Linked DNA regions of Homo sapiens: region 2 is linked to region 1. The links come from fine-mapping of genetic effects on plasma protein levels. A gene starts in region 1. The other region holds a variant in brackets. All regions are shown on one strand. Distances are from middle to middle.

Region 1 (11,975 bases):
CCTGGGACCACTCCTGGTTCTATTAGCTAGATCACTCAGGCCTACCTAGTCAGATGACAAATAGAATTCATTTCTCTTTTTTTCTTTTTCAGGCATGCAACAGCTCTGTTCCCCAGGCTGGAGTGCAGTGGCTTGATCACAGCTCACTGCAGTCTTGAACTTCAAGGCTCAAGTGATCCCCCTACCTCAGCCTCCTGGGTAGCTGGAGGCATGTACCACCATGCCCAGCAAACTTTACATGTTTTTGCTAGTAGAAAAGAGGTCTCACTATGTTGCCCAGGCTGTTGAAGTCCTGACACAATCCTCCCCACAAACCTTGGGAGGTACAGGGATTACAGGCATGAGCCACTGTGCCAAGCCTACAAATGGAATGTAATATAAAGAATTATTGGGCCAGGCATGGTGGCTCACGCCTCTAATCCCAGCACTTTGGGAGGCCGAGGCACGTGGATCACCTGAGGTCAGGAGTTCGAGACCAGCCTGACCAACATGGCGAAACCCTGTCTCTACTAAAAATACAAAAATTAGCTGGGCGTGACAGCATGCACCTGTAGTCCCAGCTACTCGAGAGGCTGAGGCAGGAGAATCGCTTGAACTCAGGAGGTGGAGGTCGCAGTGAGCCAAGATAATGCCACTGCACTCCATCCTGGGTGACAGAGTGAGACTCCGTCTCAAAAAATAATAATTAAAAAAAAAAAAAGAATTATTGGCTGGGCACAGTGGCTCATGCCTGTAATCTGAGCACTTTGGGAGGCTGAGGTGGGCGGATCACTTGAGTTCAGGAGTTCAAGACTGGGATCGACAACATGGCAAAACCCTGTCTCTACAAAAAAAATACAAAAATTTAGCCAGGCATAGTGGCAAATGCCTGTAGTCCCAGCTACTCAGGAGGCTGAGGCAGGAGGATGGTTTGAGCACAAGAGGCAGAAGTTGCAGTAAACCAATATCGTGCTACTGCATTCCAGCCTGGGCGACAGAGCCAGACCCTGTCTCAAAAAAAAGAAGAAGAAGAGGAATTATTAACTAGGCAACTTGGAGGTAGCAACTGTGAAGCAGCTACCACCATGAGGGCTAGGAGAACAATGGAAATGGCTGGAATGACTAAAACTTAGATGCGTATAAGAGGGGTCCTTGGAGCTCAAACTGAGACCTCTGCAGGGTGTGCCACTAGGCTGATGCTAGTGTCACTGAGCTTGGAGAAAGAACCCCAGGGGGGCTGGGGCAGTTCATTCTGGGTGGGCCTGAACTCTAAAATCTTATCAGCACTGTGTGAGCCCCAAATCTCTGCTCAGCTCTCACCTCCCAGCAGCCTCCCTCAAGTCTTGCCCTGTACTTGTGCAGTACAGGGTCAGCCAAAGGTCTAAGACTTGTGGGATTCCCTCTCTGTGGTTCCTCATTTTCTGTCCTAGATCCCCAAATCTCTGCCTTACTCCTGAATTCTGATGTCTACCTCTTCTGTCCAGTGAGACCACTTGGCCTCCACCTCCCTGCAGAGTGGCCTGGAAAGTGTCCCCAGGGAGAATGCTTGGGTAGATGTGGGGCTCACATTGTGTACCCCCTGACGCTCTCAAGGATCACAGCCCTGTATTAGAACACTGTCCAGTGCCTGTCCATAGCTGTTTTCTTTAATTTGTCCAAGTTATATAGTGGTTTACAGCAGAACAGCAAATCCTCTACCATTCTTTTTCGTCTGCTCAGTATCTGAATTCCCATCTTTGCAGAGTTCTACATCTTGCTACATCCCCTTGCATGCAATATTGAAGTGAAATCTGTCTCCCTAAAAATCCCATCTGTCATTTATGGAACTTCCCTCTAGAAATTCACCTTGCCTTCTGCTCTGTAATCGCCCACCAGAGGTCTGGAGAAAGGGCTTTCACCTTCCTTTAGCTTGGAGAAGACTATCTATGATTGCCCTGACTATTAAAGCTTGAGGTTCAAATCCATGGCCTATTTATGGAGTGGCCTTTGCTCAACTGAGCTTCTATTCTCTTCCTCTGTGCTGGAAGCTCCCCAAGGACAGAGAATATCTGCCATTTATCTCTACGTTCAAGGGAGGAATTAATGGATGGGACATTCATACCCACTTCAGCAGCTGCCGGGTGGGCACACATCTGCTCTGAATGGGGGATTGGCTAGTCTTCCCTGTGTTGTGTTTGTTTTCAGGCTGGAGGCTGAAGAGGAAGAAAATCACACCCATTCTTGTTGCCTAATTACTTACCCAGGTGCATGGGATCTCTCCACCTGCCAGACAACAGAGGCACCTCAACCCCCCTTCCCGACTGGGAGAATTTGTCCCTACTTTCTCCTATCATCTTAGGGGGCCCACAGGTGTGGCCCACAGTGTTAACTGGTACTCTGGGAACCAGAGAGATGAAAGAGCACAAATGCCTCTGCTGGGCTATGGGCTTGCAGGCAATTTTAAAAGGAAATAGACATGACTGATCACCTTCAAAGCTTGGGAATGTTTTCTCCACCCAGATACAGGGGCTTTGATGCCACAGGCTCAGTGTTGGAAAATGAGTCTTCTGATTTAATTCTCAAAGAGTCGTTATGCATACATAGTACTCTCCCTACCATTTAAAAGGAATGTAGATCATATGTAAATGCGCCTCTGTGAGATTGTGTATCCTAACCTGCATTAAGCACACATTAATTTCATTATGACACCGTTCACTTACTCCTCCTTTAATGTCTGCATAAAAAGCAGGCAAATCATTTCTGTACACATTTATTTCTCAATCATGACCATGTTTTGTCCAGTCCAGGTCTCAGGGTCGGGCACTGTACTACAGGAATGGTGGCTCAGTTTGAGGTAATCAAACGTCAACTCCCCTGACCCCTACTTCTGACCCCCTCCATGCTCCTTGCCAAGACTCATTCTTAAACTCCTTCTTTGACAAGGACCTCACTATCTCTGGAGCAGCCTGATCTCTCTTTGGACAACTATGAACCATTAGAAAGTCTGAACTTACCAGCAAAGTTGTCCCTGAAAAGCAGCATGGAGTTCGCTTATCTCTTTTGTTTGCAAATCCTGCTTTGTTCATTTAACATTATAAGTGTTTCCTTCTCATAGTGAGACCCCATCTCTGAAAAAAAAAAATTGTTTAAATTAGCCAGGCGTGGTGGTGCTCACCTATAGTCCTAGATACTCAGGAGGCTGAGTGGGGGAGGACGGCTTGAGGCTCAGGAGTTTGAGGCTGCAGTGAGCTATGATCATGACATTGCACTCCAACCTGGGCAGCAGAATGAGGTACCATCTCTTTTTTTTTTTTTTTTTAAAAAAAGGGTTTCCTTCACATCATTAAAAACAATCTTAAATTTTTGCATGTTTACACATTCACATATTTACAAATATGCCATTACATTAGATGTGCACTTTTTAACCGCTATTTTACTAAACAATGTATTATAAACATGTTTTCATTTCTATTAACCCATATTTTCTTTCTAATTGTTAATGCCTGCATAATCCTCTATTGTTAGATGTACCATAATTTATTTAACGATTGCCTCTCGGTGGGCATTTAGGTCGTTAACTTTTTTTATTTTTATTTTATTTATTTATTTATTTTTTGCTATAGTAACCAACTCCAGGATGAAATCTTCACACATAGTGATCATTTTTTTAGGAGAGATTCCTGGAAGAGCACAGAGGGGTCAAGCGGTGAGAGCACTTTAAAAGGCCACTCCTGGTAAAGACAGCAGCCTCCAGGTTGAAAGTCACTGTTGATAGGTTCTGAGAGCTGCGCTGAGTGCATTACCAACATTGTTATATTTATTCCTTACCACCACCCCTTCATGGTGCCTAACCGCCCCTGCTCTGTGTGGCTGATTGTAAGGTAAGGCCTGGCGTGGACCAGGCAGATGGCCCTCCTCTGACCACCACATAAAGTGGCCTCAGAAGAGGCTCCTTTCTGGGGATAAGAAGACTGCAAACTGGGAAGGAACTGGGCTTGAAAAGCAAAATGAACCCCACCCAAGAACGGTGTAGCTGGTCTTCCCAGGCTGCAAGAGGCTTTCTCCATCTCCAGGAGTTCAGCAAAGAAAAAACAATAGAGCACAAGACACATGAGGGGTGGCCAGTAAAGGCAGGAAAAGTCTCCTATAAAACCTGCTCAGCGAGTCCCTCCCTCCATCCAGTGCATTTACCCAGCAACACATCAAATCCCAGCAGCCAAGACTCTCTTAGGTTTCTCGTCTGGGTGCCCTGCCAGAACTCAGGCAGGATGGTGTGCACAGAGCCTGGCCCAGAGAAGGCGCAACGGCGGCATGAATAACTGACTACAAGAAACTGCATCTTTCCAACATGCATTCCCCAGTAAGCCACAGGTACACTGACCCTTGTGCACCAAGACTTCATCAAAGCATTATTCGTATTAACCAAAGGATGGAAAATAAGTGGTTAAATAACTGCAACTAAACCCTGTGGAAAGGCCACTCTGTATGAACTCCAAAATATATCACCATATCTCATCACAACAAAGTCACTGTGGACGGAGATGTACCATGACTTTATGCAGCATTAAGAAACACACTCACAGAGCCAATGAACTATGCTCCCATTGATTGTATAAGAAACCCAGTTTCACAGATGACAAGAGGTGGGGAAACTGTGAAACACTGTAAGTGCAAAAACCAAGTGCAGACTAATGTGTATGGCACGCTACTCTGTGTGTGTGAGAGAGAAACAGAGTGTGTGTGTTTTAAAGGAAGGGGCTTTTTTAGGCACATGTACTTTTATAGGCATAGAGAAAATTTCTGAAAAGATATACAAAAACCCGATAGCAAGAGTGGCCTCTGGAAGCCGAGTTGGAGGATGGGGATACAAGGTGGTAGGGTAACCCTCTTTTCATCCTTAGATGTATATGTAAAATCTACATTTTAAACCATATATTCTCTTTATAAAATAAAACTTTGAAAACTACTGAATGCAAAATAAAATTAAATAAAATAGCGCATCCTTCTGGGAGGATTTACGGGCATACTATCTGGAGCCAGCCTTGGATCCGGAGACCGTACGGTTATCCAATCCTGACTCTGCCATAGCGACCTCGGGCAAGTTGTCGCCCCGACTGGGTCTCGGTTCCCTCAAGAGTCCAATCGGAGGTCGGAGAGCTGCTCTCGGGGCGACCCTCCAGCTCGGAGACCCGGGCCGCGGGCACCGCGCGGGTCCCGGGCTGGAGCAGCGGTCTGCGGGCGCCCCGCGGTGCAGGCCCGGCCAATCAGCGGCCGCGGGGCGGGAGCGGTGACTGCTCGGCGGGCGCGGAGCGGAGCGCGAAGCAGAGGCGCCGCCGCTGTCCCGGAGCAAGCCATGCCGCGCTTGTCTCTGCTCTTGCCGCTGCTGCTTCTGCTGCTGCTGCCGCTGCTGCCGCCGCTGTCCCCGAGCCTTGGGATCCGCGACGTGGGCGGCCGGCGCCCCAAGTGTGGTCCGTGCCGGCCAGAGGGCTGCCCGGCGCCTGCGCCCTGCCCGGCGCCCGGGATCTCGGCGCTCGACGAGTGCGGCTGCTGCGCCCGCTGCCTGGGAGCCGAGGGCGCGAGCTGCGGGGGCCGCGCCGGCGGGCGCTGTGGCCCCGGCCTGGTATGCGCGAGCCAGGCCGCTGGGGCAGCGCCCGAGGGCACCGGGCTCTGCGTGTGCGCGCAGCGCGGCACCGTCTGCGGCTCCGACGGTCGCTCGTACCCCAGCGTCTGCGCGCTGCGCCTGCGCGCTCGGCACACGCCCCGCGCGCACCCCGGTCACCTGCACAAGGCGCGCGACGGCCCTTGCGAGTTCGGTGAGTCAGGGTCGGGGATTGGGTGGGTAGAGAAGGAGGGATTCCAACCCTCTGGGGTGTGGAGCGAAGGATCCCCCTGCCCAGTGGTGGACGGCGCTGCCTGGCACTCAGTTTCCCCTTAGGGAGCAGTATTTCATATCTCTCCTCGTGCTCAGAGAGACTGGGGCGAGAATCCTTGGAGACGCCACTCACTGTGCTAGTCGAATTTTTGGTGAGCCTGCTACCCCTTTTGGTACTTAAGTACCTGCTGATGCAGTCACTTATTTGTAGGCATGGTATGTTTGCCCAGCAGGAGACTGGGAGTTAAGGAGGGGGATCCGAGTTCCCAGGTATCCAGCGCTAGGTGGATTGTTTGAATGGGGAGGAAGGGAAGTTGAGGTTGGGGGAGGAAGGGAAGTAGAGGATAGGGGAGGAAGGGAAGTTGAGGATGCAGGAGGAGGATGAGTTCCAGACTGGGGAATCAGTAGTCACCAGGCCACAGCACCAGAGCACCAGGGCCCCCGGTGTGGGAAGGGGCTGAGCTGGGATGCTGAGGGAGCTCCATCCAGGAGAAGTAAGACCTTTGGAGACGTAAGGTCTGAAAAGATTGTGGTGCTATTAGGGGCAGACTCAGGTTTCGTGCTTCTAAAACATATATAATTTGGAGAGTCCTGCCTTAAGTAAAGGAATAGAACTGCTAGGGACTTAGAAACTTATTATGAAATGCTAGGGACTTAGAAACTTAAGCTTCATTAACATCACAGTAAAATAATCTCTGAGTGCTATAGTTGCCCACCCTCTTTATGTACCTTTTGAAAACCAAACAAAAAGAAACCAAAACGTTAGCACTGCTTTACCGGCTTCCTAAGCATGAGTGTATTCCACCCACTAGGTTTTGAAGTGCCGCTGTGTACTTTGCCTGGAGTGGGCAGTGCTGAGTTTAGGGTGAGTGAGAAGGTGGCCAGTGAGTCCCAAGGAGCCTGGGTTTCGGCCTGGAGTTCAGGCTTCTGGGAAATAATTCTGGCCTGAGCCCAGAGACCAAGTCCAGACTTTAGTGCCTAAGTCAGTGTAATGACTTAGCTTCAAGAAAGAAGCCTGGGGTGGGGTGAGACCTTTCCAAGCCTTAAGAAGTATCTAGTAGTCTTTCCTCTCAAGTAGTTCAGGTAGATGTACCCAAGTCCAGGAGACGCAATGGGTTGTTGGAGATGGGGCAGGAAGCCTCCAGTCCTGGGAAATGTAAAACCAGTGTGTGGCCAGTTGAGCACAGGAAAGTCACCATTGGCTGTTCCTAGCTGAAGCTCCCCATGGAGGACAGAGCTGGCTGGGGGTGCATCTGTGCTGCCGCTGGCTCCCTGAGTGGCCCTGGACGGGTCCCTTCCCCTCTCTGGCCATATCAGCCCCAGTGGAGTCATTGTTGAGGTCCCTTTCACTCGGAACAGTTGGTTTCCGCCCTGTGGCACTTAAACAGTCCTGTCTCTTTCCTTTTGCTAGTTCCTATCACTCGTTTTTATAACTGCTTTCCTCAGCCGTTAATTCACAGGCAATTCTCTTTGTCTCCAGACAGGTAACACTTTTAACTCCACATGCAGGAGACAGAAGAAATGCTGACCAGGTCCTCAGACTATAAATGCTGCTGATGATCTCAGATAATTTCTCCCCAGAGTGGCATTCTCTTCCTAAGAGAAAGGCACCTTAAAGACATTCAGACCAAATCTGCTGTTATACAGAGAAAGAGACTGAGACACAGCAAGGTCAGAGCCCTTGTCCAGGGTGACCAGTAAAGGATGACCAGCTCCCTGGTCCCAACACCCTGTCCAGTGCTCTTTTGGCACAGGACTTAATAGTATTAAGTCAGGCAGATGGTGGTTACCATGGTTACCAGAGTGAGGCCAGATGGCAGATGGAAACTCCATACCCCTAATTCACTGAAAATTACCAAATGACAAGTAAATGTGACAGCCCCTTCACTCTGATCTATGGGATCTGAGGCCCACCCCAGGCACAGACCCAGGGAATAAAGATATTCGTGGGGCCACATGGAAGCAACTCAGAACTGGTTTTCATGATCTCATTACTGACAGGCGTCAGGCCTCCCCGGGGTTCAGCCCTTCTTCCGCACCAGCCTTTGTGTCATCCACCACAGAACCGGGCACTGTTTGCCTGTCACTCTCTGTCCTGAAGTGCTAGTGTGGCCTCTGCCCTTGTGTCCAGATAAAGCATGAAGGTTTGGACAGGGGATGTTTCCTAGCCCAGGCAGCAGCTCATTCTGTGCTGCCCTAAAGCCATCTTTTATTCACAAGACACAGCGGGAGCGTTTTTTAACAATGCCTCTGGGGATCCCGGTTGAAGGAAAACAGACTGTGAGTCAGAGCAGGGCTGTTCTGCTTCAATATTCATGATAAAATCACCCCTCCTGACTCCTTGGGTACCCAAGCACCTAGATTTCATGGAATGAGGCCTCGGGAAGTATTTATTATGTTGTTCACAGTGTGTGAAGGGCCCTTATACATGCCTCTGAGGAGCCTGGGGAAGCAGTTTTCAGGCTTAAATTCTGCCCTTTCCTCCTATGCCCTGAAATGCCCCAAACTGCCACATAATGAGAGTGATCCTTTGATCCGCACACATGTATGGAAGACTCACATATGAATAATTCTTACTGTTGGAAATTGCTTTTGCATCCTTTTTTTTTTTTTTTTTTTTTGAGACAGGGTCTCACTGTATCTCCCAGGTGGAATACAATGGCTTGATCACAGCCCACTGTGATCCTGGGCTCAAGGAATCCTCCTGCCTCAGCCTCCCAAGTAGCTGGGACTATAGGCACATACCATCATGCCCAGCTGATTTTTAGAATTTTTTGTAGAGACAGGATCTTACTGTGTTTCCCAGGCTGTTCTTGAACTCCTGGCCTCAAGCACTCCTCCCACCTCAGCCTCCCAAAGTGCTGAAATTACAGACATGAGATACCATCCCTGGGCTGCACCCATCTTTTTACATGATTTTTACAAGTGTCCTGGGGAGGTCTCCTTCCCATTTGATAGAAGGGAAAGCTGAGGCACATGGAAGGAAATTCCCTGGAGCCACCTGGCTGGTCCCAGCTGTGAAAGGGCTCCAGTGTAGGTTTGCCTGGCTGTTTTGTTTTGTTTTGTTTTGAGACAGAGTCTCACTCTGTCACCCAGGCTGGAGTGCAGTGGTGTGATCTTGGCTCACTGCAAGCTCCACCTCCTGGGTTCACGCCATTCTCCTGCCTCAGCCTCCAGAGTAGCTGGGACTACAGGCGCCCACCACCACGCCTGGCTAATTTTGTTTTTTGTACTTTTAGTAGAGACGGGGTTTCACTGTGTTAGTCAGGATGGTCTTGATCTCCTACCTCATGATCTGCCCGCCTCGGCCTCCCAAAGTGCTGGGATTACAGGCGTGCGCCACCATGCCTGGCCTGCCTCGCTATTTTCAGATGGGCGCTGCACAGCTAGCCGCTAGCAACCTGATCAGTAAGGTGCTGTGCACCCGCCAGCCTTGAATCTTGGGGGTTTCTCAATCTGGGTCCACCTTCCTGTTTTTCCCAAGGTTTGTCACTTGTCCCTCTATTTAGCACTGGGCTATAGCTCCTGAGAGAAGCCTTGAAGGATGGGGAGAGAATCCCAATGCTAGCAAGGGGGAGGCACAGCATGAACTGAGGCTCAGAGGTGGGAGCCCTTTGGTGGGTGTGCAAGTGGGCCCATAGGGCCGAGGCCTGGTAGGATGGTTGGGAAAGGAGATGACACCCCAGAGTAGTTTGGGGTAGGCCACTGCAAGCCTTGGGTGCAAGGCCGAAGGGGGAAGCTTCATTCTGCACTTTGGGAGGCTGAGGTGGAAGGATTGCTTGAGGCCAGGAGTTCAAGGATAGCCTGGGCAACGCAGCAAGATCCCATCTCTACAAAAAATTCTAAAAACTAGCTGGACATGATGGCATGTGCCTGTAGTCCCAGCTACTTGGGAGGCTGAGGCAGGAGGATTTCTTGAGCCCAGGAGTTCGAGGCTACAGTGAGCTATGATCATGCCACTGTACTCCGCCTAGGAGACAGAGTGAGACCCTGTCTAAAAAGAAGAAGAAGAAGGAGGAGGAGGAGGAGGAGGAGGAGGAGGGGGAGGAGGAGAAGGAAGAAGAAGGATGCAAAAGCAATTTCCAACAGTAAGAATTATTCATACGTGGGTCTTCGATACATTCTGAATTATTGGTTCAGCTTCTCACTGGTAAGGTGGTATGGCCTTAGTATTATGATGATTATTATTGCTCTCATTACTTTAAAGGCTGGATAGTTCAGTGTGTGCACCCTATTTGTTAGCATTGGGAGAGGGTTGGGGTCCTACGGACAGCAAGTTAATGTCATGTTTCAAATGATAAATTAGATAGGAACAGGGTCCCGGCCAGCACCCGCCAGGGCATTGAGCCCTGGCAGCTTCGGTGAGCTCCTGAGACCCTGAATCTTAGAAAATTCACCTTGGTTGAAATTCCAGCTCCACTTAGAAACCTAGGTCTGTGCTAGTGTGTGTTACCAGGTAACCAGGAGAGGCAGCGCATGCCACTTCGTGAGAGGGACAAAGAAGGGGGTTTGTGCTCAAAACCCTTTCATGCTGAGGGAGGAGATCTGAGGCAGAGGCTGCAGGGAGCAGGATTAAGCTGTTTCTTGTTCCACATCATAACGTGACTATTAGCATAAATTATCAGGGCTGTTCAGTGTGTTGATTATTAAAATCTTTGGTTATGTGCTTTTTAATACAAGCAGATGGGGTCCTGGGGAATGACTTGATATCCTTTCTTTCCCTAGCACCATTAACTTTAAAGAAATCTCAGAGGGATTTGGGAAGATTTTTTCATTCCAGCCATCAATGATCGATATAATTGACGAGGTAGGGGGACAAATCACCACACACTATAATAATAATATTGATCCCTTTCATTTGTACAGATCCACACAGTTAATAACACAGTCACATCCATTTTCTCCCTTCACCCCAAGGATGCGAGGCTGCGGTCATCATCTTCATTTGCAGATAAAAAGGAAATGATTAGCAACTTGCCCAAGCTCAAGTGGTTGGCAGCGAGACCCCTGGGCATTTGAGTCTCCCTCTGGTACTGTTTTTGCTCACCCCACAGTACTGCCTCCTGTGACCATGTGCATCTGGGTGACTGTCTTACCTGCTGGTTAGCCCTTGGATGGTTGGATTTGTGCAATTCTAGGGCTATTGCTGGCACAAGCAGAAGGAAACAAGTATCAGCAAGGAAGAGCTATAGGGGGATGAAGCTTCCACATTCACAGACTGGGCTAGCTAGAAGCCATCCTCCCTCCTGCAAGCCACATCATTCTTGTGAAAGGCAGGCAGAAAGGAAAGCCCTGGTTCCTCTGGCAGTGTGGCGGCTCTGGCAACAGTAAGAGTATGTGCTTGGCTCCCCAGAGTGAGGGCTGTAGTCATGGTCCCTGGTGCCTCTCACCCAAGGCCAGAGGAGGCTCTCATGCATGCAGGGAGCTTTAGAGGAGATGCCTAAGGACAGCACACCCTGCCTGAGTCCTCAAGTCCCTCTGCAGAGGTCTTTTACAGTTTGTAAGGGGTCTTGCAATTGTTCCTCACAACAGCCTTTGAGGAGTGGGCTGGGAAGGGAATAGATTCCTGTGCCCATTTTAAAGAAGAAGACACTGAGGCCAAGACTGGGACGTGGCAGAGAAAGGATTTGAACCTGGACTCTTCCACCCCTGCCTGCCACGCTGTCCTTCCTGCCTGTGGTGGCAGCCATGACGTTGAGCACTCCAGTGCCATGCTGGAATGAGCCCTTGGGGATAGTAGGGACTAGAAATGTCCTGCTGGTGTCAAGGACACATTGCTCATGTTATGGGTTATCTTCATAAGAGCTGTTCCCTGGGGGTGATGTTTGGGGTGTTTCATTGTTGTATAGAAAACAGCTAACACGGCAGGCCTGCGACCATATCCTCAGAAAGGCCTGCTGGCAAGGTTGGCCTTGGGCTGGTATCTGGGGACTTAGATTTCAGGGGGGTTCCACTCTTCTCAGAATTGATGAGAGTGGCTCACTGTGCCTGAACTGTACAAACAATGTGGTTTATGCTGAACCCCTGCTTTCCTTCTCGGAGTGTGGAATTTGGGTATTCAGTTAGGCAGAGAGTGCCTCTGTGGCCAGCTCCCAGTAAAAACCCTGGGCGCCAAGTCCCTCTTGAGCTTCTCTGGTAGACAGCA
Region 2 (11,975 bases), 17 kb after region 1:
GAGGCAGACTGAAGTGATTCGATGTGAGGAGGACTTGACCCACCATTTCTGGCTTTGATGATGTTGGAAAGGGCCACAGCCAAGGAGTGCCAGCATCCACTAGGAACTGGAGAAGGCAAGAAAATGAGTCTCCTGAGAGCCTTCAGAAAGAATGCAGCCCTGCCGGCACCTTGATCTTAGCCCCCTTTGGGCCTCTGACCTCCAAAACTGTAGAAAAGAAATGTGTTTGTTTTAAGGCACTCAGCTTGTGGCGATTTGTTACAGCAGCCCAAGGAACTAGTACACCTGCCTAAGGTCACCCGCTGGTAAAGGTAGAAGGTGGCACATTCGAGTCCTCCTCCAGAGCTCTTTCCTGCCACTCGCAGCACTTTTACCAAGATGAAGAATGCCACATGTTTGAAAGAGTGATGGAATGAGGAGATAGGGGTCCATGTTGGGTCGTCACTGTACCCTTCTGAGCCTCCATTTCCACTGTTGTTGAAAGAGGGCTTCAAACTGAAAGACCTCTGAGGGCCTTTGTGGCCCTGGCAGTCTGTGATTTACCTGTGAGTCTCCTGTAAAAAGAAGACCATAATGCTCACCCTTCCCCCACGACTGGCATGAGTTTAAAACGAGCTGATGTGCGTACACCAGCGCGTGGTCGGTAGGATGATTTGTAATTGATGGAAGCGGTTGGTTGTAACGAGAAAGCAAAAAAGACGCGAGCTGGTTATGGACCTGGCTGTGAACATCCTTGGGGTGCTCCCTAAGGACAACCTCCTCATTCCACCCACAGCTCTGGGAGGCTTGGTGACTCTTCTCCACCCAGCTGAGAGATTGGGAATGCAATTGGCTGTGCGGTTTTTTCAAATCAAGCACATTCCTCTATTTTCTTAGGAGAAAAGACAGGGAAAAGAGGTTATCTCTGGTGGTATTTTGTAGAGGCTGCCCCTATAGGGAATACTTTCTGGATCATTCTTTGGTCAGTAGATTTTTGTTCTTCTTTTAACTTGAGGTGTTTTCCAAATAACCTATACCTTGCACCTTTAATACAAAAGACCAGGTAGCTCACAGTAAAAGGCAGGTGTGCGGAGGAATCATTCAGATGAGAGCCACAATAGGGAGCGTGCCTTTCAAGAGGGTCCCTGGGAAGGAAATTTACCTGCGTGCTCCTTGGCAGCCAATGCAAGGAGAGAAATAGAGCAAGTTTTACCTTATTCTGAAAAGGAGGAAGTGTGCAGACTTATCATTAAGAACTAACTAAGGAAGTCATTTTGCTGTTCCTTATATAACTGTATAAACTTGCCTGTTGTATTTCTAGATCAACCCCCTGCGAAAGGAGGATGAGGGTGTGTACCAGTGCCATGCAGCCAACATGGTGGGAGAGGCTGAGTCCCACAGCACAGTGACGGTTCTAGATCTGAGTAAATACAGGAGCTTCCACTTCCCAGCTCCCGATGACCGCATGTGATGGAGAAATGTACATGTTCTAAGTCATTTTCAGTATTTTACACCCATGTTATGAGATATTTGAGGTGGCTTATAAGACCTGTAAAAAAAAGAAGAAAAATACGTAAATGGAGGAAACCAGGGAAAGAGCAAAAGAAGAGTAGGGACATACTTAGATGAGCAGTAGAATCCCTGGTATATTCTGCACACATCTCCCTCTGAGCTTCTTAGCATGCAAAGACAAGAGCTGTGAACATGATGTGTGTCCATGAGATGAAAAGACCAGTTGTGTTTTGGGGCTGGAGGGAATATTTCCTCTGTATTCTTCTAGAAAGAGCACTGAGAGAGGTAGCAGACAGTGTCATTGTGACAGCGTCCATGTGAAAATGTTCCCACAAAGAAGATGCCTGAGCTTCCTTTGTGTGTTCCTGGAGCTCTTCCTTGTTCAGGACACCTGAGCTTCCTTCCTGGGGCTCAGGCCTTGCCTTCCTGTCCTCAGCACTGTGTGCTGCTTTGCAACACATCTCCTTGTGGGTAGGGGCAGAGAGAATCTCTGCATCCCCTCTGGTCAAGGCCTCCTAGTCTGTAGTCACACAGGTGACAGCTGGGGTTGCATCTGTTCCTTGCCTACAGGTGAACTGGGAATTCGGGAAAGGGATCACTTTATAAGCCAGCTTTTGCTCATAAAAATCCCAAAATCTTGCTGGTTCACAGCCACAGACGTTGATCACTTGCTCATGTTCCATGTTATAGCTGTGAGCTGGCTGTGGCCCTGCCCCATGTGTCCCCTCATTCAGGACCCAGCTGGAGGAACAGCTCCAGTGTGGAACATGTCCGTTCTGTGGCCAGGCTGCACACACCATTGCATTTAAAGTTTCTGCTCGGATGTGATGTGTGCCCCGCCCATTTACAGACCAATCATTTTTTTTTTTTTTTTTTGAGACAGAGTCTCACTCTGTCACCCAGGCTGGAGTGCAGTGGTGCGATCTCGGCTCACTGCAAGCTCTGCCTCCTGGGTTCACGCCACTCTCCTGCCTCAGCCTCCCGAGTAGCTGGGACTACAGGCACCCGCCACCACACCTGGCTAATTTTTTTGTATTTTTAGTAGAGACGGGGTTTCACCGTGTTAGCCAGGATGGTCTTGATCTCCCGACTTCATGATCCGCCCGCCTTGGCATCCCAAAGTACTGGGATTACAGGCGTGAGCCACCGTGCCTGGCCTGCACGATCCTCTTACAGGAATGGGGGAGCAGTGGTGAACAGGCACCATTACCAAGGCTGATCAACAGGTGCTTAATAGAACAGGAAAAATTAGAAACAAGTCTGATAGGGTTTCTCAAAAGCAGGGGGATTTTGCCATGGTTTTAGTTATATTATTCTTTCAGCCACTACTGTTGCACACCTTCTGTGTGCAAGGCCTTACTTCTGGTCTGTAGGGGATCACAGAAAAACAAAAAGTGGACATAATTATAATACAAGGAGTGCGATGTAAGGGAATGGGAGGAGATATTAAGGCATGAAAAGCAGCTTAGAACTGGGGAAAATGAAGGAAGAATCATCGAGGAGGTGGCATGAGGATTGAAGGATGGGTGTACGTGAGTAGTTAGAGGCCCTAGAAATGGGGAGAAAAATATGAAAATGTAAAACTGTGAAATAGGAATTCAACAAAGAGTTAGGAGATTGGGTCTTAAAATTGTCTTCCTGATGATATGTGACTTGTTTTATATAGATATGTTTCCAGTTTTAAATATATATATCTATAATTTTCAAATACACGTATATTTTGAGGCAGAAATGATTCTGGGTTGTGAATACATCAAAAGGATACCATGAAAAATTGTGGAATTTTAAGAGCATCACTGCTGCCTAGGTCTTGAGTTCCTTCTGTGACACACAGTATTGCCAGCTCTGGCTTACATACCTCCAGGGATACAGAGCTCACTACCACTGAGAGCCATCTGTGGATTTTCCAATGGTTGAAAAGATCTTATTAAGCTGGAGTCTGCTGCTTTGAAACGTCCACCTTTTGGTCTTAAAAGTACTTCTTGGGACTCCACAGGGCCCTTCACTCTCCACTGGCACCATTTCCTGCTGGGGAGAGATTCGAAGTGAAGGATCATTTCCCCCACCTTCCATGTAACACATAGTTGATTGTAACGGAGCAGGCTTACGTTCTCTAATTCTTTCTCTCCTTTTCTTCCTAGGGTCTTAGAAACATTGATCATGGGATGATGGAAAAGTCAAATAACGGATCTTTGTGCTTCATGAAGAGTTGGAAAACCTGTGTGTGTAGATGACCCCTTTTGTGTGTTTTTAAAAATTAGATGCAAACTAGATCTGTATGCAGATGTAGTTTTTAGCAGGGCAAACAGTGAGAAACGGATTTGCATGTGGCTTTTTTATACTTTTGAAATGAATTGTTCCATGAGAAGTCTTTTTGTAATTATTCTCTTCCAGGGAGATCACAGAACGGCATGTTTGCAATTTCGAAAGGGCTCGTGTCAGCTGTGACTCTTTACCTCATTTGTCTATGACCTATTAGTGGTGCTCTGTGACTTAGTGTGTGTTGTAGAAGGAGGGATGAGGGTCCCAGCTGTCCTCTGCCTGACTGTAACTTGCTGTGTGACCTGAACAGATCCCTTCCCCTCTCTGGGCCCTGGTCCCTTCATCTGTGAGTATGGCATTTTAACTGGATGTTATCAATGTCCCTTTTAGCCCTGCCATCCTAGATTAAGATGGCCTTTTGGGAAAATAACAGGAAGTGTGGTCTTAGTGTTCTTTCTAAAATGGTATTCCCTCAGAAACAAATTCCATTGCTTTACCCCAACGTGTGGACAGCTGGCTGTAGCTCTTCTATTCCTAACTTTTTCCCTTTGAAGGAGATTTAGTTTTAGGTGGGATGCTTTACCAGACTCAGGAGCGCCTTGGCTGGGTCTTTGGAGACCAGAGCATCCATTTGTTAGCCTAGCATTCTCTTTTTTAAAATTTTATTTTGAGACAGGGTCTCGCTCTATCACCCAGGCTGGAGTGCAGTGGCGTGATCATGGCTCACTGCAACCTCCACTTTCTGGGCTCGAGTGATCGTTCCACCTCAGCCTCCTGAGTAGCTGGGACCACAGGCATGCCCCACCACACCCAGCTATTTTTTTTTTTTTTTTTTTTTTTTTTGTAGAGACAGGGTCTCCCTATGTTGCCGCCCAGGCTGGTCTCAAATTCCTATGCTCAAATGATCCTCCTGCCTTGGCCTCCCAAAGTGCTGGGATTATAGGCATCAGCCACTGTGCTTGGCCTAGCCTAGCATTCTCTAAACAGGTGGTTAGAAGCGGTGGATACCAGGCTTCTGACGATCAAATTGTAAAAAAAGGGGTCAGGTGTTATCTCCAGACTGTGGAATTAGATTGTAGTAGAATATATTTTACCTACAAACATTTTGACCTCACCCAAGAGTAAGGCTCTCTTTTTTTTCTTTTTTAATGAAAAAAGAAAGGAGAATATTTGCTATCTTATCTTAAAAAAATAGATCCTTAGGTGATTACAATTTTAAAATAAGAATTGAGAGCCCTTACTATGCACAGTCCTTTAAGTTCATAAAGCTTGATCCCAACTCTGGGAGATGGGGCAGGACAGGTGTTAATGTCCCTGCCTTTAGCAGATGAAGAAACCAGGCTCTGAGAGGAGAAGCTACTTGCCCAAGGCCTGAAGGCCTCTGAAAGAGGAGCAGAGCTCAGGGCACCTGGCCCTCCTTGGTCCCCTCTCTACTCCACGGTGCTGCTACTCAGGGTCATCTCAAAACTATGTAAAGGCAGATGTTGCCAATCCACAGGCTTCAGGGACTCTTATCAAGACTCATCCCAACTTTTAAGGCACACTTTCACACCGCTCACATTGTGCATTACATTTTGGAGTCCTTGTTGGAAGTGAACTTTCCGCCTGTAAGCCTGCCATTCCATGTCTAATATATTGGGATGGCATCACCTTCTGTACTATGCAGCAGAAGGAGACTGGCCTGGGATTCTGGAAACATGAGATCCATTTGCATATTAATCCCCGGCTCGCTGTGTGACCCTGAGCAAGTCTCCTTCACTTTCTGTGCCTCAGTGTCCTTATTTGAGTAAAAAGGGAATAAAACTAGATGAGTGGTTTTCAAACTTTAAAACACTGGAAGCTCTCTTTGAAAACAAAAGATGAGAATTGAAATGGATGGCACTGGAAGCTGTTCTTGTCTACTGGGGTTTGGAGCTGCCAGGGGACCTGCTCACATCCACTCCTCACTCAGCCCCTCCCGCCCCTCCCTTCTCCACGCACTGTGACTGACTTCCATGTGTGAAGGCCTGCAGTTAATTCTCCTGTGTCTTGAATGGTTGGGAGATGAGTTGGTCAGACCCTTAGTGAAATGATGTGGGAAGGAACAGGAATGCTGTGGCTCTGAAGAAGGTAGTAGAACATCCCACACCTGCTAATAAGCACATTTTGCAAACTCAGTTGACTCACCTCAGATTTGCCTAGTGAAAACTGAAGGGCTGGATGTAGACCCAGAGAGCAGGGTGGACAGAGCCCATGCTGGAAGTACTGAGCATCAGGACTGTATGGGGCTGGCTTTAGCATCATCATTCTGTGCAAAGACAAATAATTAATGTCACACTGTCTGAAATTTTCACCAAAACCAAAAAGGCGCATTAACATGATTGTTCCAACCTCATGGTTTTTCAAGTGTGAGCGCCCAGAGACCTCTTCAGAGGCTAAGAGAGCATGCGCTGCCACAGCTGTTAGCATTTGGAGACGTAATTACAATGCCCCCACTCCCCGCACCAAACCTGGGTTTTTCTACCGTTTTTGTAGATGTCATGATGTCACGACCCCTGCACCCTGAAAAAAATAAATGTTTTTAAGGACAGTCTTTGTGGTGTCTTTGTTGTAGGAATGCTGTATAGGTGGGTGCAGGTCCCACTGGTATTCCTTTATCATCCCTCATGCCTCCTGTCCTTCCTTCTGCATGCCCACTTCAGCTACTTAGTCTAGATCCTCCTTACCTCCCACGCCTGGTTGCGATCGCAGCCCCACCGTTCACCTTGCCCGAAATTTTTAACCAGCCCTAATCATCTTACACTACTGCCCTTGACTATGTGTGTCCTGCCGTGTACGCATTCTAGTACTTAATTCACTTGCTGAGATAGTGCTCTGTCCCCTCCCACACACACAGTAGCATTCTCCAGGTGCCAGACAGGTACAAGATGCCGAAAGTCATATGTTTGGAATCATCTGGATTCCTCCCATATGAAAGTAGGTAGAATCAGGTCCTGAACTCAGACTCCAGTGGAGACATGGGTGGGATGAGGTCACCATCCCTGGCAGCATATGGTGTCTGCTTTGTGGTTAGAGCAGAGGGAGATCAAGGAAGACTTCCCAGAAGAGGAGGCAGGCATTTGAACTGGCAGGAGTGGGTGTGGGGGATTCCAGGCTAAGGAAACAGCATGCAAAAAGGAGTCGGGGTAGAAAAATGCAGTGTAGTTTGTGAACAGGGAGGAATGGCCAGTTGCTGCTGCTCAGAGCTATGGTGGTGGGCGGGTAGTAGTTTGGGGCAACA[C/T]CCCTCAATGCAGACAGAGGAGGTTGAACTTGTTGCCGTAAGCAGTGGACAGACTGAATCTCTGTCTCTGTTGTCAGCTGGGCTTGAGGAAGACAATTCCACAGCCCATGTTCAATCCCAAATGTATCTGCTTTCCCCCTTAAACACAAATAAGGCTAGTTTTTAGTTAAGGTGGATTTTTTTTTCTTTCAGGTTTTATGGTGAAATTAATTCCAACATCTTTAAAAACACTGTCCTGCCCTCTCCTCCAGGGACGGATGGTGCAGGAGAAATGAATAAGAACGGCAGATCCAGCGACAGTAAAAGTCTCCGCTAATGAATTTCCTCCTTCCCAGCCTTTACGAGGGCTTCTTGAACATTACATCAGACAATGATTATTCCATGATATTTTAATTAATTAAGGGAAAGCCAGGTGCTCTGGTGTCTCAGTTTAATGAATTCAGAACGTGGAAGCCCAGTGCCCAGGGCTGAGATGGACACCAACACTTGCCCACGCTCTGGCTCTCTGGGGCTGACCGCTCTCCTGGAACGTGAACTCGTTTACGGCCAGGGCTCCTTTTCAGTTCAGCCTCGATTGCATCCAGCAGTGAGAAGTGCGTGGGTCCAAGGAGGCAGACTTCCCTGTGTTGACTTTCACTGTGGCTGTCTCTTCCTCATGCCTACATCTCCCCTCCTATATTAGGGAACGGTTGATTCTCGAGGGAAGAGTAAAAATCCTGAGTACTAGGGAGTGGGGGAACAGTCTCCCCTCTTTTCTCCATGCATAAACCCACCCATCACACATTTGCAGAGCTCCTCCAGTGCACCAGGCATCGCCAGGTAGCAAAGGGTCTACAATTGCCCACAGACCTCGGAGTCTCAGCTCCGGCACAGAAGGCTGCTTGTGGTGCCAAGTGGCATGCCCCGTCTCTCTGCTGTTGAAGGTGTATGCAGCTCTTGCTTGGGTGGAAAGGGCACTAGCTTTAGAGTTGGAAGACCCAGAACTAAGGTCAAGCCTTGTCAGAGATTGCAAGGCTGGGTCACTTTCATCAACTCTTAGAGTTTCCATTTCCTCTTCAATCCAGGAAGGGTGGCATCCCTGCCCTGGCCTGTTGCTCTGAGAGCCCCATGTGTGAATGGCCATGCACTGTCTGTTCTGCACAGATCTTGGAGGGCTGTGTGCCGGTGGGAGAGGGCTGGGAGATAAATCAAACATGCTCAGAGTATGTGAGACATAGTCTAGCAGGACAAAAACATTAGACCCGTTTCAACCAACGAGAGCTGCCTCAGTACAAGACTAAATGAAGGGTGCCCAGAGACCTCTTCAGAGGCTAAGAGAGCATGTGCTGCCACAGCTGTTAGCGCAAAAGGTTAGCTCAAAGGGTGAGATTGCTTAAATGAGAAGTTCAGAGGAACTGTCCTGGAGGGGGTGGCCCTTAAGTAGGGCTCCAAGAAAAAGGAACAGTGTGAGCACGGCTGGATGGGAGGCAGCAAATGACCCACGAGAGCATTAAACTCAAAAAACATCCTTGTGAGAAGCAGTCTCCTGTTGGCATATCTCCACGGACGTGCCATGGGCGGCAGAGCTGGGGCGAACTGCCAGCAAAACCGAGGGTCTTCCACAGTGTTGAACTGTCCTGTCACAGACTATACTTCCCGTCTCCTCTTGCACCTAGGCTGGGTCATGTAGCTAGTGAAATGTGAGTAGAGGCGATGTGTTCCATGCAGAGCCCAGGGCTCTCAAAAAGTCACTGTGCCTTTTCTGCACTTTCTTCCCCATTTACCAGCTGACACGGAGATCTCTGAGGCCCCAGACAGGGGTTTTCACTTGGATCCCTGGACCCCTTGGGATTCTATAGGTAGATTCACAGATTCTGTGAACTCCTTGAAAGTGTGCAAACTGTGTGCATGTGCGTGTACATCCTTTTCATGGTGAAAAGGTCTATTGCTTTGATTAGCTTTTCAAAGGAACGCAAAACATAAAAATGGTTAAGAACAGGCCAGGTGCGGTGGCTCATGCCTGTAATCCCAGCACTTTGGGAGGCCGAGGCCGGCAGATCACCTGAGGTCAGGAGTTCGAGACCAGCCTGGCCAACATGGTGAAACTGTGTCTCTACTAAAAATACAAAAATTAGTCGGGCATGGTGGTAGGCACCTGTAATCCCAGCTACTCGGGAGACTGAGGCAGGGGGAATTGCTTGAACCCAGGAAGCAGAGGTTGCAGTGAACCGAGATCGCGCCACTGTACTCCAGCCTGGGCAACAGAGCAAAGGCTCCGTCTCAAAAAAAAAAAAAAAAAAAAGGTTAAGAACCGTTGTACATGGTGGAACCACAAGACGAAAGGAACCGGTGTCCCTGAATCTCCATGTGGAAGGAAAATACCAATTTGCCAGGTACCTGCATTAGACTGTTACATAAGCAAAACTAAATAGTCGTCGTATTGAACCCTCAAATTTGGGGGGTTATTTGTTGTGGCGGCTAACATTATGCCAGTACACATGGGAAGAACGCTTGGCTGGGAGCAACTTGTCCAAGTTGCTCTGTCCACATTTCTGGCTAAGTGAGGTGGGATGCACCAGAGGCTCTCAAAGGGCCTCATACCAGGACTTCTTGCTTTCCCTTGAGGGTCTTCCTAACTCCAGGACTAATGTACAGATCATTGGCGCTTGGGAGGATTAAGTGACACTCTCAACCCAGGTTTTCTGGCTTCTGTGCCCAACTCCACCACCTGCTCTTACCAAGGTCTACAGGGAGTCCTGGTGGCTGCAGCCAGGGACATTGCTCAGTGCTCCTCCTACTTGACCTCTTGGGAGCCTCAGGCTTTGCTGGGGGCTCCCTCCCCCGGAAAGTACCCCGCCTTCCTTGGCTTCTTGCCTCATCTCTCCTGGGTCTTCCTCCTGCTCCTCCTCATTCTCTGTTCACTCCTTGTTGGCATTCTTAAGGTCAAATGATTTTGCTCCCCTTACAAACTGTTCTCAACATAGCGGCCCCAGTGATCCTTTTAAAACAAGTCATATCATGTTGCCGCTGTGCCCAAAAGCCTCTGGTGGCTCCTTCCTCAGAGTAAAGGCCCCCGTCAGTCCATCCACACGGTGACCTCCAAACACCAGCCCTCTGCCCCCCTCAGGCTGTGACTTCTCTGTCCTATTTCCCCACCTGGCTTGCTCCATGCCAGCCACCTGGCCTTCTCCTGTGTTCCTGGAGCCTCCAGGCATGCTCCAGTCTCTTGGTGAGACGACCTCTGAGCACCTTACTGAAAATTACAATGTCTACTCCATCCCACCCACTTCCCTATTCCCTTCCCAGCACTGTTGTTCTCTATAATACCCTTCACCTCCTGACAGACTAACGATTTCACCTGTTTTGCATATGGTCTGCCTCTTCTATCAGAAAGGATGTTCAGGATTTTATTTTTTTTTTAGTTTCCTGCTGTATCCTCTGCCCCTAGAATAGTTCCTAGCACATAGACAACATTCCATAAAATGTGTTAAACAAAGGAATACATAAGTAAGAGTCCCACCGTGTCCCTAAACGTGCAACCTCCAGGGTGGTTGCAGTGGCTGGCACTACCCCCCACGTGGTTACTGCAGCCAGAAACATGAGGTTACCCAACTTTCTCTCCTCTCTTGTGCCAAGTTGTCCATCTGTCATCATGCCCTGAAGCCTGCCTTCTGGCTGTCCAGACTCTGCCCCCACCCCACACCCTGGTGTGCCAGCATCACTTTGGGCGCAAGCAACAATGTCCTGAGAGGTGCTGACTCCAGGTCAACTCCCTCAATCTATCCTCCACATTGAAGCAGAGCCAGCTTCAGAAACCGAATGTGATCCTATCACTTTCCTTTAAAAGCCCTCGGGGGCAGCCAGACATGGTGGCTCACACCTGTAATCTCAGCACTTTGGGTGGCTGAGGCAGGAGGATTGCTTGAGGCCAGGAGTTCAAGACCAGCCTGGGCTACACAGCGAGATGTCCCCCATCTCTACAAAATGTTAAAAAAGTTAACCCAGCATGATGGCACACACCTGTAGTCCCAGTTACTTGGGAGGCTCAGGTGGGAGGATCGCTTGAGCCCAGGAGTTTGAAGCTGTAGTGAGCTATGATCAAGCAACTGTGCTCCAGCCTGTGTGGCAGAGGGAGACCCTGTTTAAAAAACAAAAGCAAAACCAAAAAGCACCCTCCCATTGCTAGACCAAGTGTGAGCTTTCTGAAAGGATGCACGAGCCCCTTCACAGTCCAGCCCCTGCCTGCCCCCTGCCCCCATGCTTTTCCTCCCTGCCTCTTTCCTCCTCATGGAAAAACTTGCCCTTCCTCCAACCCTCCATATTTCTCAGACTCCAGGAGCATCCTTCCCTTATCCCTCTGGTCCCCTGCTAGTCATTTAGCAGGACCCCATGCCCACTCCCACTGGGCCTGTGCCTGAACTGAGCTGGGAGCCCTGGGAGGCAGCGGTGTCTGGCAGAATCAGAGGACCTGAGCTTGAGCCTGTCTCCACTCACTGCTGAACACCTCCCAGGCTTGATGTCTATCAAGTGCAGAAGAATAATACTGAGGGCCCTGATGGCAGTTAGAAAGTGAAACCCTGTCTCTACTAAAACTACAAAAATTAGCCGGACGTGGTGGTGTCTGCTTGTAATCCCAGCTACTCAGGAGGCACCCAGGAGGCAGAGGTTGCAGTGAGCCAAGATTGCGCCACTGCACTCCAGCCTGGTAGACAGAGCGAGACTCCATCACGAAATTAAAAAAAAGAAAGAAGCATGAAGGGAGGTGGCCCACCGTGTGTGCTTGATACAGAGGCTTGCTTTCCGCTCATGATCTCACGGCCTCTGTGCTTCTCACTGCACTGTCCACCCGGCTCTGTAATTGTCTCCCCTGCCCAACTGTGAGCTCCTGCAGGGAAGGGACTGTCTTACTCAATTCTCTTTCCCCCAACAATAGGCCTAGAGCAGGACCATCGCCCCCCACCCAACCCCTTTGTTTTTTCTTAAA

Which allele goes with the higher level. Positions count from the first base shown, and alleles are read on the strand shown. Strength reflects both the effect of a copy and how common the allele is.
As copies of T replace C in region 2, the plasma level of the protein whose gene starts at base 5,282 in region 1 goes down (moderate association).

The links. PIP is the posterior inclusion probability: the model's chance that the variant is causal. Protein levels are from antibody-based Olink assays in UK Biobank. Linkage for the fine-mapping came from a reference panel and not from the study's own genotypes, which makes the PIPs less certain.
Region 2: its variant is fine-mapped to the plasma level of the IGFBPL1 protein (UK Biobank, PIP above 0.99).

Annotation. Positions count from the first base shown.
Region 1 is chr9:38,417,761-38,429,735 of GRCh38, reverse strand. It overlaps IGFBPL1 (insulin like growth factor binding protein like 1), which reads left to right and starts at 5,282. Exons shown (of 5, transcript NM_001007563.3): 1 at 5,282-5,771. The coding sequence starts at 5,312. It overlaps LOC105376041 (a long non-coding RNA gene), which reads right to left and starts at 5,125. Exons shown (of 8, transcript XR_007061487.1): 1 at 4,986-5,125; 2 at 2,973-3,086. RefSeq lists an enhancer at 1-4,237.
Region 2 is chr9:38,400,875-38,412,849 of GRCh38, reverse strand. It overlaps IGFBPL1 (insulin like growth factor binding protein like 1), which reads left to right. Exons shown (of 5, transcript NM_001007563.3): 4 at 1,301-1,459; 5 at 3,633-6,322. The coding sequence ends at 1,450. Among named protein-coding and RNA genes, the nearest start is that of ALDH1B1, 14 kb to the right of the region's middle. The variant C/T (reference allele first, on the strand shown) is at 7,013.